Linked DNA regions of Homo sapiens: region 1 is linked to region 2. Evidence: fine-mapped expression QTL. Tissue or cell type: whole blood. Region 2 holds a variant in brackets; the other region holds the start of a gene. All regions are shown on one strand. Distances are between the middles of the regions.

The links. PIP is the estimated chance that this variant, and not a neighbour inherited with it, causes the effect.
Region 1: SUCNR1 starts here. The variant in region 2 is fine-mapped to the expression of SUCNR1 in whole blood (TOPMed, PIP above 0.99).

What each region holds. Positions count from the first base shown.
Region 1 is chr3:151,869,525-151,877,631 of GRCh38, reverse strand. SUCNR1 (succinate receptor 1) reads right to left here and starts at 3,989. Exons shown (of 3, transcript NM_033050.6): 1 at 3,926-3,989. All of the region lies in intron 1 of AADACL2-AS1 (AADACL2 antisense RNA 1), which reads left to right.
Region 2 is chr3:151,940,736-151,948,848 of GRCh38, reverse strand. The region is part of intron 1 of LOC107986047 (a long non-coding RNA gene); the gene reads left to right. Among named protein-coding and RNA genes, the nearest start is that of AADACL2-AS1, 17 kb to the right of the region's middle. The variant G/A (reference allele first, on the strand shown) is at 4,564.

The DNA.
Region 1 (8,107 bases), 71 kb after region 2:
TCACCACGAAAATCTAAGCAATATCCTCAAAGTCATCTAAAACTCAACACCAGTAATGAATAAACTACCAAGTCTGTTTACTGTAATGTCTGGGTATTTCTCAAATCTATCATTACTGCTCTATAGCTTTCATTATCATTCTCGTCCAGGCTACTCTTATCTCTATTTTGCTCTATGTCATATTCTGCTATTGTCTCCTCACATCCTCTCTGGCCCTCATCAGTTCATCTTTACCATTATAGCTAAACAGTCTTGAAAAACTACAACTCAAAATCAGATCATATAGCTTTCCTTGATCAAAACCCTTAATTAACTTTCCACTATCCAAGGAATATAGTCTAAAATCCTTAATGGGGACATCAAGGTCTGCATGATCTGGCCCCTGCACCCACTTCAATTTTGCTTGGCATTACTCTCCTCCTAATTCATCTTCCTTTCTTCCTGCTCTTTGAATGCACAGAGAGCCTTCTTAACATGCAGTCCCTCTATCTGAATCTCTTTTCACTGCTGTTTTTGTCCTGTGATTCCTGGCCCATCACATATTTGTCATATATCTATACTTCTCTCAGGCCTCTGTTCAAGTGTAGGTTTCCCAAGGTAGGCTGTCTGACCCTCAGTCTAAAGTAGGTCCTCCCATTTATGCTTTCATTGTATACTAAACTTCTTAGAATTTTGTATAACTTTGTCTTACTCATTTTTTATTGTCCACATCTGGCACAGTGACCAGCAGATAGTAGGTGATCTATAAATCTTTGTTGAGTGAAGAGATGAATATGAACACCTGACTATTTACAAAGCATTTTTATAAATATTTTCTCCAAGGCCAGATAAGCAGCAAGACCATCAGATTAAGCTCATTGCTTATTTCACTGTGAAAGTCAACACTATATATAATATAATATGATAAGTATTAAAAATTAGTAATTGTAGTAGTAGTAGCTGTAGTTTAGAAACACATTTGTATAAGGCAAAATTAAATATCTACCAGGATAAATTTTAAAACTGAAGCATTTAATTAAGAAATGACACCTGAAATTAATAAGCATAAGAAGTCTAGAAAGACGTGCATCAAAATGTTAATAGCTTTATCTCTAATGATGAGATTTCAGGTAGTTTTTATTATTTCCTTTCTCCTTTTATCTAAATTTCCTATCATTTTTTCTCTCAAAATTGGCATCTATTTGATAATATTAAAAACTTTAAATTTCTAGAAATATAGCAAAAATGTCAATAGGCTTTAACATATTAACAAACTTTATTTTTTTTAGCTCAATGGTCAGTTTTTACTATTATTATTTATTCTCAGTAGCTTTTAAGTCCACACTTTCTGGAAGCACTCTCTTCCTATCTTCTATGACACAACAATCTCCTTGTTTTCCTCCTTTCTCCATTTTCATGCTCTTTTGTGGCTTAATCCTTCTTTGCCCAAGTTTTAAATGTTGGACCTTCTCAGGCCTTATTTCTGAGCTCTTGTTATTTTGTGGGTACTCAAAAAGCTGGTGCACAAATTCAAATGAAAATTAAGGTATAGAAAGTTTCCTTGACACAAGAAATTTGTTTCACTTTTGCATTTCCTTTTTTTCTGGTCATAACGTTTATCTTTCTGCCTAGTCACCACTGGTAATGTTAATAGCTTATGTATTGTGCACAGCAGAAAGATTTGACTGCAATGGAAGGAAAATATAGCCACAAAGACTTGTGCAACTAGAGCCTGATTTCCTGCAACTATCACTCAGGCAGGTGACGGGTCACATGAAAGTCAAGGAGCATTCTGCTTTATAGTAGCCCAGAAGGTCGGGGATTGAAGGAGTAGTAGGGAAGGAGTAGAGCTGAAATAAGAGAAATGAATGACTAAATTATCATATTTGTCTTTCTTCTCATACAGTTGTTTCTTCATTTTTTTGAAACAACTTTTTAAAAATGTATGTGTAAAATTATTGTTAAGGTGTAACACTCATAAAATCAAATAGGCAAAAATAAGAAATAAAAATGGTCTGTAAACAGACCACTCCTAATATTTGGGTACCCTTTTACATTTTAATATTTACCTGAATTTTTATTCATAAAAATGAGATTTTTTTATGATGTTTTATAATTTTTTGATACATTTGTTTCATTTTTTCTAAGTTCATAATTCTAATAGATTATGATTTTATAAATATGAGCTGTGCAATATTTGCAGACCAATTTAACTTCACTAGGATACAAAATTTTGAAGATACTATATTTCAAATTGGATATGTTTATAGTTGGGTATGTTTTTAGTGTGGCATCGCAATTCTATAAACATATGAAGTAAGTTGCTCCTTTAAGCAAAACTCCCAATTAAAGAGAAAATTCCCTCATGAAAAATTCATATTCTCTCTTCTGCTATCTAGTGGCTATATTCTTAATTTTTAGGAAATGGAAATAGTGATAAATAAATTGTAACTGATTTGGATGAATTATTTTGAATAGGTATTTTTTAAGAGCAGAAATTAAAGTGAAATCTTTAGTTTCCAGTCCAAAAATATATCTAAAACTGTTAGAATTATTGAACTAGAAGCAATATCTAATTTACTCACATAAGCAGACCAATAATACTTAACTTGAAAATGTTTTTTACTTTAAATATATTCAGCCTTTTGAAAATCTGCATTTTTGAAATTTACTTTAAAATATATATGTGATAGTTTCTTAGCTTTTTAATTGTTTGTTTTTATAGTCATCACAATTAAACAAATAACATTTGTAAAATGTTTACTTTTAAGTGCTACCTTAAGGCAAATTTACATGGTAACATGAGAATTTTTTTTAACAAATTACTTTTTTGATTACTAAATAATTTGAGCAAAAATATATATTCACACTGAAAAGATATAATAATTTAACATTTGTAACTTTATTTTTATGTATTCCATACATTACACCAGAAATTAAGGTATTAAAAAGTAATAGTATGGCACAAATTGTGTATTAACTTCTTTAAGAATACCACACACATTTTGAAAAGTTATGGAAGGTAGAATAGAAATGGTTTCTGCAATTTTTCATTTTTCCTAAGTAAATTAATTATTGGGTAATATCATTTTTACACACATAAATGTTAAATTTAATTTTTAGGATGCCTGAAAATTCCCCCAAATACATTATTTTCTAAACATAAAAATATTATGCCCCAGCACAGTGGCTCATGCCTGGAATCCCAACACTTGGAGAGGCCGAGATGAGTGGATCACCTGAGGTCAGGAGTTTGAGACCAACCTGACCAACATGGTGAAACTCCATCTCTACTAAAAAATCCAAAAAAAATAGCCGGGCGTGGTGGTGGGCGCTTGTAATCCTAGCTACTCTGCAGGCTGAGGCAGGAGAATTGCTTGAACCCCAGAGGCGGAGGTTGCAGTGAGCCAACACATGCTGTAAATGTGTCACTCTGGCACTCAGACACTCTAGCCTGGGTGACAAGAGTGAAACTCTGTCTTAAAAAAAAAAAAAAAAAAAAAAAATATATATATATATATATATATGTATGTATATGTGTGTGTGTGTGTGTGTGTGTGTGTGTGTGTATGTATCAAATACATGATTGTTTCAAATCATTTAGGAACTTTAATTTTTCCCCATAAGTAGTTATATTTATTTAGGTAAATCCAATTACTATTTTGTTGAAATATAAGTTGTTGAGATGTTAGCAAATATAATAAATCCTTTTACATAAAATAAAATTAGTATTTGACAACTAAAAGAAGACAGTTAATTTGTTGAAAAATAAACGTAGAGATAAAAATGACTTTTTTTTTTCAATTATTTTGCTGTTTTACATCTATTTATAAAGAATTAATTTAAACACTTAATACTGAAAACCTTAATTGCTCACAGGTCACCTTTAGAAGGAAATCTGGCCTTACTTTATACACTGAGAGGCACAATTTGCCATGTAGCTTACCATTCTGTTGGAAGACTTGATCCCTTGACAGGAACTCTGCCAGCAGCTGGATATAGCTTCTGACCCAGTGTTGTGCCACTGGACATGGTTATTACAGTGTCCTATTTGCATATCCTATTTGCATATCCTGCAGCCAAGATTAATAATTCAAAAGCCCAGGAATAATTTATTCAGTCAAACCTCCCAGTCAGAGATGTTCATGCAGAGGAATTTTTGTGAGGCTTTTATTTTCACATTCACATTTATTTTATTTTCACATGCAGTTTTGCAATTGAATGACAAAAAACAAGTAACTCATTTCACAGGAAACACATTTACCAAATAGATTTTTAGAAAAACACTGTTGAACTTATTTTATCCACTACCAAAGCAACAGAGAAGCATTCCTTATTTTCATTTTATTTGCATATTTACACAATAAGAAGTGGTAAATACTGCTTATATTGGGAATACAGTTGCCTCTGCTTTTCTTCTTTTTTAAAATTAATTTTCTTAGTGAATTCTGTATTGAGAATATAATAACGAAACCTCTGTTTTCAATAACTTTGAGGGAACTATAAAACTGAAATTTTAAAGGGAAACCTGGATATATGCTATGTTGGTGTACTAGCAAAAAGATACTAGAGCTTCAAGTTATTTTCCATTTTATTTTCTGTGCTTAAAATCAAGAAACACATAAAAGATACATCAGATAGCTAGGGATTAGGGAGAGAGATGCTAAGTAAAATAACCTTAATAGATGGCAATTTATATATCCCAATCAATGCTCTGAAAAACATCTGGAAGTACATTACCACCATTTCAGACAGGAAGCACACCTGGCTTTTTCCAAGCATTATATTAGGTTTAGATTCAAGTAAACACTCAGTCTTCTTGATGTGAAGCATAGGGATTATACTAAGAAAGCCCATAATTGTGCAGGCAGCAGTAATTCAATTTAAATGCTATGTAAGTTGAATATTGAGTTAGCAATGACAGGCAGAAGCCCAAAAAGAAGCTCTGTTACAGGCATCCTCCTAACTAAGCATTTCTCCTCACCAATATCTGACAGCTTAAAAACTCAGGAACTCAAAATATATGTATGTATATATACACATACATATATACATACATATGTGTCTATATTACACACTTTATATACATGTGTAAAATATATTTATACATGTATGAATATTTATGTATACAAACATGTGCATTTACATGAAATAAAAATATCTATAATTTGTTGAGTTCTTGTGATGTGGCAGGCAGGTATTACACTAAGTACCTTTATGCATCAAATGCATATAGTAATCCTCTGAGGTTGTTATTATTTAAGATTTTTCTCATTTTGCAGATTAAAAAGCTAAGGTTCAGAGAGGTCAATTAACTTTCTCAAGATTGCAGAATCAATAACGGGAGGGACCAGAGCTTAAGCCTATGTACTTGGATTCTAAAAGCACCGACTCTGATTCTTGACTGCCTACAGAATTGAATGACAATACCCTTGTGCACAACAAAGTCTAAGAATTAATAACAGGTATTTTTCAGTAATGCAATTCTTTTCTACTTTTAGAAGGAAGAAAGGTTAAAACATTATTTTTGTCTATATTTTTAAAAGGGCAAAAAGCATTTGAATAACCAATGCCAGGCTTGTTAATTTTAGACATAAATTAACATGAACCCCTTCCAAGAAACAAAGACAAATGGATGTATTTCACAGGTTTCTGCCACCATTCTGATGGAAGAAAAGAGTAATTCCCCCTTTGTGGGGTGGTGGGAGTTCCCGAGAGCTTCCTCTTTCTTCGTCCCACTTCCTGACTACCATCTCACTCTGGCTGCTAAGACAAAAATTGGTCTATGCTTCTCCTTTTTCATAGAACACGTCATCTAGACTGTAGCCTGGTAGCCTTGTTTCCCTCCCAAGTCCTACTTCCTGTTTCCTCCGAATGCTCTCAGTTGAGATACTAGAGTGTTACTGGGAAAGACTTACTAAAAGGTCACGAGTATTTCTGCTACAAAGCTTTATGCAGGTCTGCAAAATGATAGCTGCACGGGAACAAGGCTGGATTCAGAATTATGACCCTGTGAGCAGGGTGGGTTTCATGGTATGCTACTGTGTAGTCTCACAGTGCTTCACACTCAAAAAAGATCACACAGTTGAGTTAATGCTCTACTGTCACATTCTTAATTAAAATGTTTCATAACTTCTTAACAAGGGACCCCATATATTTCTTTTGCACTGGGCTCTACTAAATATGTAGCCAGTTCTGCCTGTGAGAGTAGAAACCTCCTCAGAAACTATTTCTATTCAGTATAGCACATCAAATTTTGAGGGGGCAAAGTTTTTTTGTTTTGTCTTTTTTTTTTTTTTACATATAACATGTTGAGATGCACTGCTTGAGAATCAATGGAAGTTTGAAAGGCAGTGAAAGTTTGCAGTACTGGCCGGGCATGGTGACTCACACCTGTAATTTCAGTACTTTGGGAGACCAAGGCAGGCGGATCACTTGAGTCCAAGAATTGGAGACCAGCCTGGGCAAAGTGGCAAAACTCTGTCTCTACAAAAAATGCAAAAATTAGCTGGGGCATGGTGGTGCGTGCCTTTAGTTTCAGCTACTCGGGAGGCTTGAGGATGGCCTGAACCTGGGGAGGCCGAGGCTGCAGTGAGCCATGATTGTGCCACTGCCCTCCAACCTGGGAGACAGAGTGAGACCCTGTCTCAAAAAAAAAAAAAGTTAAGTACAACAATGAACACTTTTTAAAATATATATTTTTTAAAAGCTTGTAGTACTGTTTGCTAAGAGGTAGTATAACACAGTGTTTAAGAGCATAGGTCCTGGAGGCAAACTGCTTTGTTTCAAATATTGGCTTCACTACTCACTAGCTTTCAGTTTTTGTATTTGTAAAACAGGGATAATGAGAGTTACCAATCTTATGAATTGTTATGTATATAGCAGAAGTACATATGCTACATAGTATGAGGTACTAGTATATACGTACACTGTATAATATGAGGTACATATTAGTTGCTAAATAATTGTTGGCTATTACAGAAATTTATAATGAATGAGAGAAGACTTTCTCTAAAATAATAATGGTAATTCAGTGCCATTGATGTTAGAATACTTGCTGCCCAGAAATATCCATTTAAAAGGTCCTTATAAAAGCCAACATGATAAAAAGATTAGTGAGTTCTAATCCTGGCTTTGCCTTTTACTAGTTTGTGTGATCTTTGAAAAAAAATCACATAACCTGATTTCCTTGTTTGGAAAAGGGGAATAATAATTCCTACCCATCAAACTCATAATGTTCATAGTATCAAATTATATAATGTTTGAAAATGCAATGGGCTTGAAATTGAAGAGCAGTTCATGTAAACCAGGCAAACTAATCAGGAAATTCAAGAGGAAAAAGAAAATGGTGGGAAATATAATATAAATATTAATTAAATCCAATGCTAGTAATAACTTCTGCTGGGTCCGGTGGCTCACACCTATAATCCCAGCACTTTGGGAGGCCAAAGCAGGAGGGTCACTTGAGCTCAGGAATTCAAAACCAACCTGGGCAACATAGCAAGACCTCCTCTACTAAAAATCGAAAAAATTGGCTGGGAGTGGTGGAACACACCTGTAGTCCCAGCTACTCAGGTGGCTGAGGTGGGAGGATCACTTGAGCCCAGGATGTCAAGACTGTAATGAATTATGATGGCATCACTTTACTCCAGCCTGGGTGGCAGAGTGGGATCCTGTCTAAAAAAAATTAATAATAACTTCTACTAACATTTTTTCAGCATTCACTCTATAATAACACAGTGTATGCAGTGATTCTTTTAATATTCACAATAATTTAATGCAGTGGATATTATTAATATCACTCATTTTCAGTTGAAGAAATCAAGGCCTAATAAAGATTAAATAAATGATCCACAAATACACAGCTAATACATGATTTGGCTGTATAATTTGAAGCCTTATCTGTTTGACTCCTGAATCCAAACTCTTCTCCATTATTCTCCTGAGTCACTCATGGTAAAGATGAAAATATTAGATTGAAACATAAAATTATTGATATTGGAACATTTTTACCTTATATATGGCAATTTTATATAGTTTAGTAAAATAAATTTAAAACTAACACTAAATTTAATTATTAGTTATAAAACTTATTGATTATCAAATTTAATAATTTAAATCTTCCAAC
Region 2 (8,113 bases):
ATTAGAACCCAAATATTACCAACTAAGCAATTATTCTGGAAATATAAAAAGAATTCACTATTGAAACATACATAGAAACTTCTGTTTCCAACTGTGTGGTGAGTTAGTTTCTCAGATAGACTCTTTCAATGATAACAACTCAAATGCCAGATAAATTAAAATTTAAAATCCTAAATGTGGAGTTGAACTTGCAGAAGTAAAAAATACCCAAGCGAAAATCCATTTGAAGGCTGAAACTTTGAAAGCTAATAAATGCAGGTGGCTTTTAAATAACAAAAAAATTGAACTTTCCTTTTTATGGCCTTCAGGGCATTGGAGACTGGAAACAAAGCTTCTATTTCAGCAAGCTGAGAAATCTGAAAGGAGATGTAACTAACAAACCCTTCTTCCCTCAGTTTCAAAATATATTGATTATCTTGAATCTAGGCACTGAAAGGGAAGAAAGACTTAAAAACGAGTCCCTAAACCCTCTTTTTGACCAAACTTTAGCAGCTCCTGTGAATCCTCTTTTGAACCAGGCCTCATCCTAGGACCCTGTCTTTGATTCTTGTTCTTTGAATCCAGTTTTAGCAAGAATTCTTCATTCCTTTTTTCCCTGTTCCATGAGTCCAGTTTTTAAATCCTGCCAAGTCAATTTAGAGAGAATCCTCCACTCTTCATACCTGGTCACCCTGACCTGTTATCAGTAAGAACCCTGTTAAGACTGTTTAGCCAGAATTCCCTACCTTTGATGTCTCCTCTTAGCAATTCTCCATTCATGACCCCCTCACTCTTCTCATAGGCTATAGACACCTTGTTGCTTTTGCTGTATTCAGAGTTGAACCCAATCTTGACCACCTATTACAATATTCAGGACATCGATTACAATAGCTCTGATAAAGTCTTCCTTATAGTTTTAACAAGTGTCAGAATAAGTTTTTCTTTAACACCCTACAGTATTATAACTACAAGTCTAATCTTATATCAATTTGAAGTTAGAATTCATATTACTTATGTGATATGAACAAATTCAAGTATTTAACTTTAAGTGATCTTAAATTGTTAATGCACTCAGATAACTTCCAGAAATGAAGAGAAATCCTCTCAGGAAGAATCTACCTTAATCCCAGTCGTGGAAAACCATGGAGATAGAAGCTACGGAAAACCTCAAAAACCATAGCTCTCAGGGAGGAGCACCTTTGATGCCATCGGGTGTAGCTGCATTTTCAAAAGGATGGGGCAAATGCCATTGCTTTTTATATCTTTCAGTCCTTGCTCCAGTAGAGCGAGAATGTGTGCTCCATCATAGAAATGCATTACAGAGTTTGACAAGAGTAATTTCATGAGACAGCCCACCAAAAAATGAAGCCACAGGAAGCCAAAGTACTGGGGAGACTGTGGAGAGAAAGGAGCTCAGAAAAGTGACCCAAGAAAGTCCTTTAGGAATGATAGGACTTTCATGTAACCTGCATATGCATAGATCTGACCCCAAACAGCACATCAAAGATCTATGAGCACTGAACTAACAGATAGTCTAGGTCCCAGACTGAACACTGTGGAGTGCATACCCAGGAGAGAGCAAACAGCACAACAAAGGTTTGGAACACTGAACTAACACTGGAACCACAGTCTATAGGGGGTGGGTTAGAACTTGTGGGAGGCTGAGGAGGGTGGATCACTTGAGGTCAGGACTTCAAGACTAGCCTCACAAACATGGTGAAACCCTGTCTCTGCTAAAAATACAAAATGAGCCTGGCACGGTGGTGTACACCTGTAATCCCAGCTACTTGGGAGGCTGAGGCAGGAGAATCACTTGAACCCAGGAGGCAGAGGTTGCAGTGAACCGAGATCATGCCACTGCACTCTAGCCTGGGCAACAAGAGTGAAACTCCATCTCAAAAAAAGAAACAAACAAACAAAAACTTGTGGCCCAAACCTACTGAAACAAAATATTAACAATCTGCGTAGAATTTAAACAAGACTCCAAAGAATCTTGAAGTAATTCACAAAATGTCAAAAATGACTCAGCATAGAAAGAAGCACAAACATTTCAATTCACATGAGAAAAGACAATCAACAGACAGCAAAGCTGAGATGACAATAGATGTTGGAATTAGCTGACAAAGACTTTAAAGTAGCTATTATACAAATGTTTCCAGAAGCAATTGTGAACACTCTTGCAACAAAGGTTAAACAAAAAGCTTTAGCAAAGAAATCAAAGATATAAAGAACCAAACTGAAATTTTAGGATGGGAAAATACAATAAACACCTTCTTCTATCCTCCAATAAAAATCTCACTGAGTTCAACAGCAGGATGGAGATAACGGAGCACAGAGTCAGTGAACTTGAAGACGGATCAGGAGAAAAAACTCATTTAACCGAAACAAGACAAAGAAAACAACTTACAAAAGAACAAAATCTCAAGGACCAACAGGATGATACCTGAAGATCTAACCATGCCACTGGAGTTTCAGAAAGATAGGGTAATGATGAAAAAAATAAAAAATAATGACAGAAATCTTCCAAACTTTATTTTTTAGAAAATGTATAAAAGAAGTGAAGCAAATCCCAAATAGGATAAACTCAAAGAAATCTATGCACAGACATATCATAATAAAACTGCTGAAAACCGAAGACGAAGAAAAAGTGCTTAAAGCAGCCAAAGAAAAGTGACACATTAACTATAGGGGAAGAATGATTTAGAAACTTCAATACTTCTCATCAGAAATCATGGCAGACAAGAAGAAATGCTGAAAGAAAAAACTGTCAATTCCTAATTAAGAAAATGTTTTATTATGTTTAATCCAGAATTTTATATCTAAATGAAATATCCTTCAGTAGTGAAATTCTCACTACTGAAGGATATTTCATTTAGATAGGATATTTCATTTAGATATAAAATTAAAAATGTCCTCAGATGAAAGAAAACTGAAAGAACTTGTATCTATCAGTCATGCTTTAAAAGAATTTCTAAAGGAAGGTTTTTAGATAGAAGGGAAATTGTTTCTGAAACAAAACACTTGAAACTCCAGGAATTAAGGGAGAAGAAAAGAAAGAGCAACATTTCAATGAAAAGTTGTCATAGTTCATTTGGGCTTCTCTAAAGAAATACGATAAACCAGGGTAGGTTATAAACAACAGAAATTTATCTCTCAGAGTTCTCAAGACTGGGAAGTCCAAGATCAAGGGGTAGCAGATTTAGTGTCTGCTAAGAGCTTGTTTCCTGGCTCATAGATGGCACCTTCTTAGTGTATCCTCACATGATGGAAGTGGCAAACAACCTCCCTTAAGCCTTTTTTTAAAATAAGAGTACACTAATCTCATTCATAAGGGCTCTACCTTTGTGATCTAATCAAATCCCAAAGATCCTACCTCTTAAAACCATCACCTTGGGGGTTAGGATTTTAACATGTGAACTTTGAGGGGAAACAAATATTCAGACCAAAGCAAATGTAATAAGTTAGTCTTCTTATCTTGAATTCTTTTACCCAAAAGAAGACTTAAAATAGGAAACAGAGTAATATAAAATAAGGGGAATAAGTACAAAACCAGAAAATAAAATGATAGTCCTAAATCTAAACCCATCAATAATTAATTTAAACATAAATGGTCTGGACACACCAATTAAAAGACAGAGATGGTTGGAGTGATTTTAAAAATTACTTATATGCTGCAAAGAGAGCCACTTAAAATATAGTTACACAGATAGGTTAAAAGTAAAATGATGAAAAATAATATACCACATATATTAGTCCTTTTCACACTGTTAATAAAGATGAGCCCAAGACTAGGCAATTTACAAAAGAAAGAGGTCTAATAGACTTACAGTCCCACATGGGTGGGGAGGCCTCACAATCATGGCAGAAGGCAAGGAGGAGCAAGTCACATCTTATGTGGATAGCAGCAGGCAAAGAGAGAGCTTGTTCGAAGAAACTTACCCTTATAAAACCATCAGATCTTGTGAGACTTATTCACCATCATTAGAACAGCACGGGAAAGACCTGCCCCATGATTCAATTACTTCCTACTGGGTCCCTCCTACAACATGTGGGAATTCAAGATGAGATTTGGGTGGGGACACAGCCAAACCATATCACTACACAAACACTAATCAAACAAAAACTGGAATGACTATGTTAATATCACAAAGCAGACTCAGAGCAAAGATTACCAGGAATAAAGATGGACATTACATAATAAAAAGGCTTAATTTACCAAGAAGACATAAGAATTATCAATTTATATGAGCTAAGCCACAGATCTTCAAAACACACAAAGCAAAAACCTACAGCATTGAAAGAAAAAATAGACATATCAGCAAATATAGTTGGACAGTCAACATTTCTTTCTTAGTAACAGAAAGGACTAGTTAACAGAGTTAGCAAGGATATAGAAGAACAAAACAATGCCATCAACCAACTTTATCTACTTGATTTTTATAGAATTCTATCCAAAGATAGCAAAATACACATTATTTTGAGGGACACATGGAATATTCATCAAGATAGATGATATTCTGGCTCATAGTCACACATTAACAAACATAATTGAAATCACACAAAGTATGTTCTCTGACCATAATG[G/A]AATTATACTAGAAATAAATAACAAAAGAAAAAAACAAAACCTTCAAATATTTGAAAATTAAAGCTCATGATTCAAAATAATATGAGTCAAAGAAAATGTTTCAAGAGAAATTAGAACACATTTTGAATGAAAATGCAACATAACAAATTAAGTCAAATTTAGTTAAAGCAATGCACAAAGGGAAGATGTGTAACAGTAAATACATACATTATAAAAGGAGGAAAGTCTCTGTAATCTCAATTTCCGGTATAAGAAACTATAAAAACAATAGTAAAATAAGAAGCAGAAGAAAATACAGTTATGTGTCACAACAGTATTTTGGTCAATGATGGACTGCATGTACGACAGTAGTCCCAAAAGATTATAATGGAGCAGGAAAATTCCTATCACCTAGTTGACATTGTAGGTCCCAGTGCATTGCATGAACTTTGCTATATCTGTGTATCTAAACATAGATACACAAGTGCCATTCTGTTGTGGTTGCCTGCAGTATTCAGTAGAGCAACATACTGTATAGGTTTGTAGCCTAGCAGCAATAGGCATACCATATAGCCTAGTGCTATATCAGATGTGCAGGAGGTCATACCATCTAGGTTTGTGTAAATACACTCTGATGTTTGTACAACAAAATTGCCTAACAATGCATTTCTCAGAGCATATCCCTGTCGTTAAGCAATGCATCTTGTAATACATATAAGAACAGAAATTGTTAAAATTGAAAACAGAAAACAATAAACAAATTTTTCTTTTTCTTTTCTTTTCTTTTTTTTTTTTTTTTTTTTTTGAGACGGAGTCTCTCTCTGTCCCCCAGGCTGGAGAGCAGTGGCCAGGCCTCAACTCACTGCAAGCTCCGCCTCCAGGGTTCACGCCATTCTCCTGCCTCAGCTTCCTGAGTAGCTGGGACTACAGGCGGCGCCACCACGCCTGGCTAATTTTTTGTATTTTTAGTAGAGACGGGGTTTCACCGTGTTAGCCAGGATGGTCTCGATCTCCTGACCTCGTGATCTGTCCACCTCCGCCTCCCAAAGTGCTGGGATTACAGGCGTGAGCCACCGCGCCTGGCCAATGAACAAATTTTTTAAATTGTGCTTTAAAAAAAAAAAAAGCAAGACCAATAAACTTAATAAATATCTACAATGATTAACAAAGAAAAAAATAGAGGATGTAAATTACCAATACTAGGAAAGAGAGAGAGGATTTCGTTACAAAATCCAAAGATATCAAAAGAATAATAACAGAGAATTTCAAGATAAATAGGCAACTCAACTAGTCCTCTGTCTATTAAAGAAGCTGATTTTATACTTAAAAGTTCCTAAAAAAGAAGTATCCAGAACAAAAAAGCAAGACAAAGACTAACATGTTTAACAATTCAAAAGAAACACAAAATTCTCAATACAGTGGTCTCCCCCTTATCCTCAGGGGATATGTTCCAAGATCCCTAGTGGACGACTGAAACTGAGGATGCTACTAAACCGTGTGTGTGTGTGTGTGTGTGTGTGTGTGTACACACTATGTTTCCCTCCCATAAATACATACCTATGATAAAGTTTAATTTACAAAGTAGGCAGGGTAATATATTCACAACAATAACTAATAATAAAATAGAATAATTAAATGTTATGCTGTAATACAAGTTAGGTGAATGTGGTCTCTTTCTCTCTCTCAAAATATCTCATTGTACTCTACTCACTTACATTCAAACTATGGAATATGAGAAGATGCCTAACTTCACTAGCAATAAAAAAGCAAGTTAGAACCACAAGAGTTACCATGTCTTACCCAATCTTTAGGTGAAAAACTAAATCTGACACTGTCATGTTGGCATATATGTGGAGCAACAGGAACTTATGAATATTGGTGGTATGATGTATAAATTGGCCCAAACATTTAAAAAATAGATCAACATTTCATAGGAAGTTTGAATATGCTCATAATATATGATCTAAGGATTTCACTCCTGGAATAAATGTATAAAAATTAATAACATATTACAGGAAATAACCAAAATGTCCGACAATGGTAGAATGGAAAATACATTGTAGACTGGTTTTAAGGTGGAACACTGTTCAGCAGGGAAACTGAATGAGAGACAGTTACATGTGAGCTTTGCCCAGTGAATCTACCCAAACCTCATATTGAATGAAATAAGTAAGACATAGACATTATAGTGTAGGAATTCATATTCATAAGGTTCAAAAATAGGAGAAATATATCCATAAGTGGTAAAATCATTTAAAGCCGAAAGAACGTGGGATGATTATTATAAAAGTCAAAATGACGAAAACCTCTGTTTGTAGGATGGGAAGGTGATATAATTGGGAAGATGTATAGAGGATTTGGAAAAAACTGGCCAGTCTCTATTTCTTAACCTCAGCAGTGGACACATAGGTGCATCATTTACTAAAATTATTTAAGTCAATATATGCATTTATATATTGTTTTGTATGAATGATATTTTCTAATAAATGGAAAATTGCAAAGTGAAATAAACCACTTTTTATGAAATACCGAAACTGAATTACTGTGCTTGTCCAAAAAGCTGCATCCTGATGTGGGATATTTGGTTATAATTTTTCTCATTCTAACACATTCCAGTTTTGAACTCTTGACTCTTTGAAATGCCAAATGTAATTATAATGCGGTATTTTGTTTAAGCATGTGCAATTAAAAGGGCACCATTGAATTGTGGTAGTGTGTAATGTTTCCCAGCTGCTAAAGGTAGAGGACATAATTTTATGATGTGTATTTGCTCCTACCAAAGACTCTCTATTTTATAGATTTATATGATATTAGAAAGCTCTCCTTCATTCCACTACTCTCTATCTGGGTTTATAGGTTAGAAGTGAATTATAGTTTGGTACAGGAGTCAAAAGCCTGCCTTGAGAGTGCTGGCCCTTCATTTCAGGAAAACTACTCAGGGATAAAATGGCCAGTTTTTGAAGCCAGAATTGTCAGGGCATTATTGCTTATTTTATGCAGTTTTAAATATGCCAAGGACATATTTGGAGCTATGCTGAGAAGAAAGGGATCCCTGTCCAGTTAATTAAAACATGACTTTTAGCAAGTTGCAAGTAGAGAAGGTTCATAGGAACAAATTATAAATCTGCTTATTTATCTTCTACCACATTGTCTTTTACAGAATACTCTTTAACCCACTGTATTTCACATCTCAGCAGTTTCTTCTTCCCCATGATTCCTAAGACTTTTTTCTATCTTTGAAAACTAGAATGTAGCTCTTAGTTTTCCTTCCTGGATAGTTAATTCATACAAGATTCTGTGTGGATTACAGAATCAGACCCAGTTTTTAGAAGACTTGCTTCCTTGCTATCATACATCTTGTGTTATATAGTTTTCCTTGCTAGGTCATGTCTACATATAAATAGGCACATTTATCTGGAGATTTAAATTAATTACTATTTTTCATAAAATGGTATAAAATGAACTTTGACACTGGCTAGGGCTACTGAATTCTAGCCCTTTTCTATGTAAGTCATGAATATATTTGAAGACTACTGTATTTTTGCAGTGAAAATATAAGTAGCAGTGTTT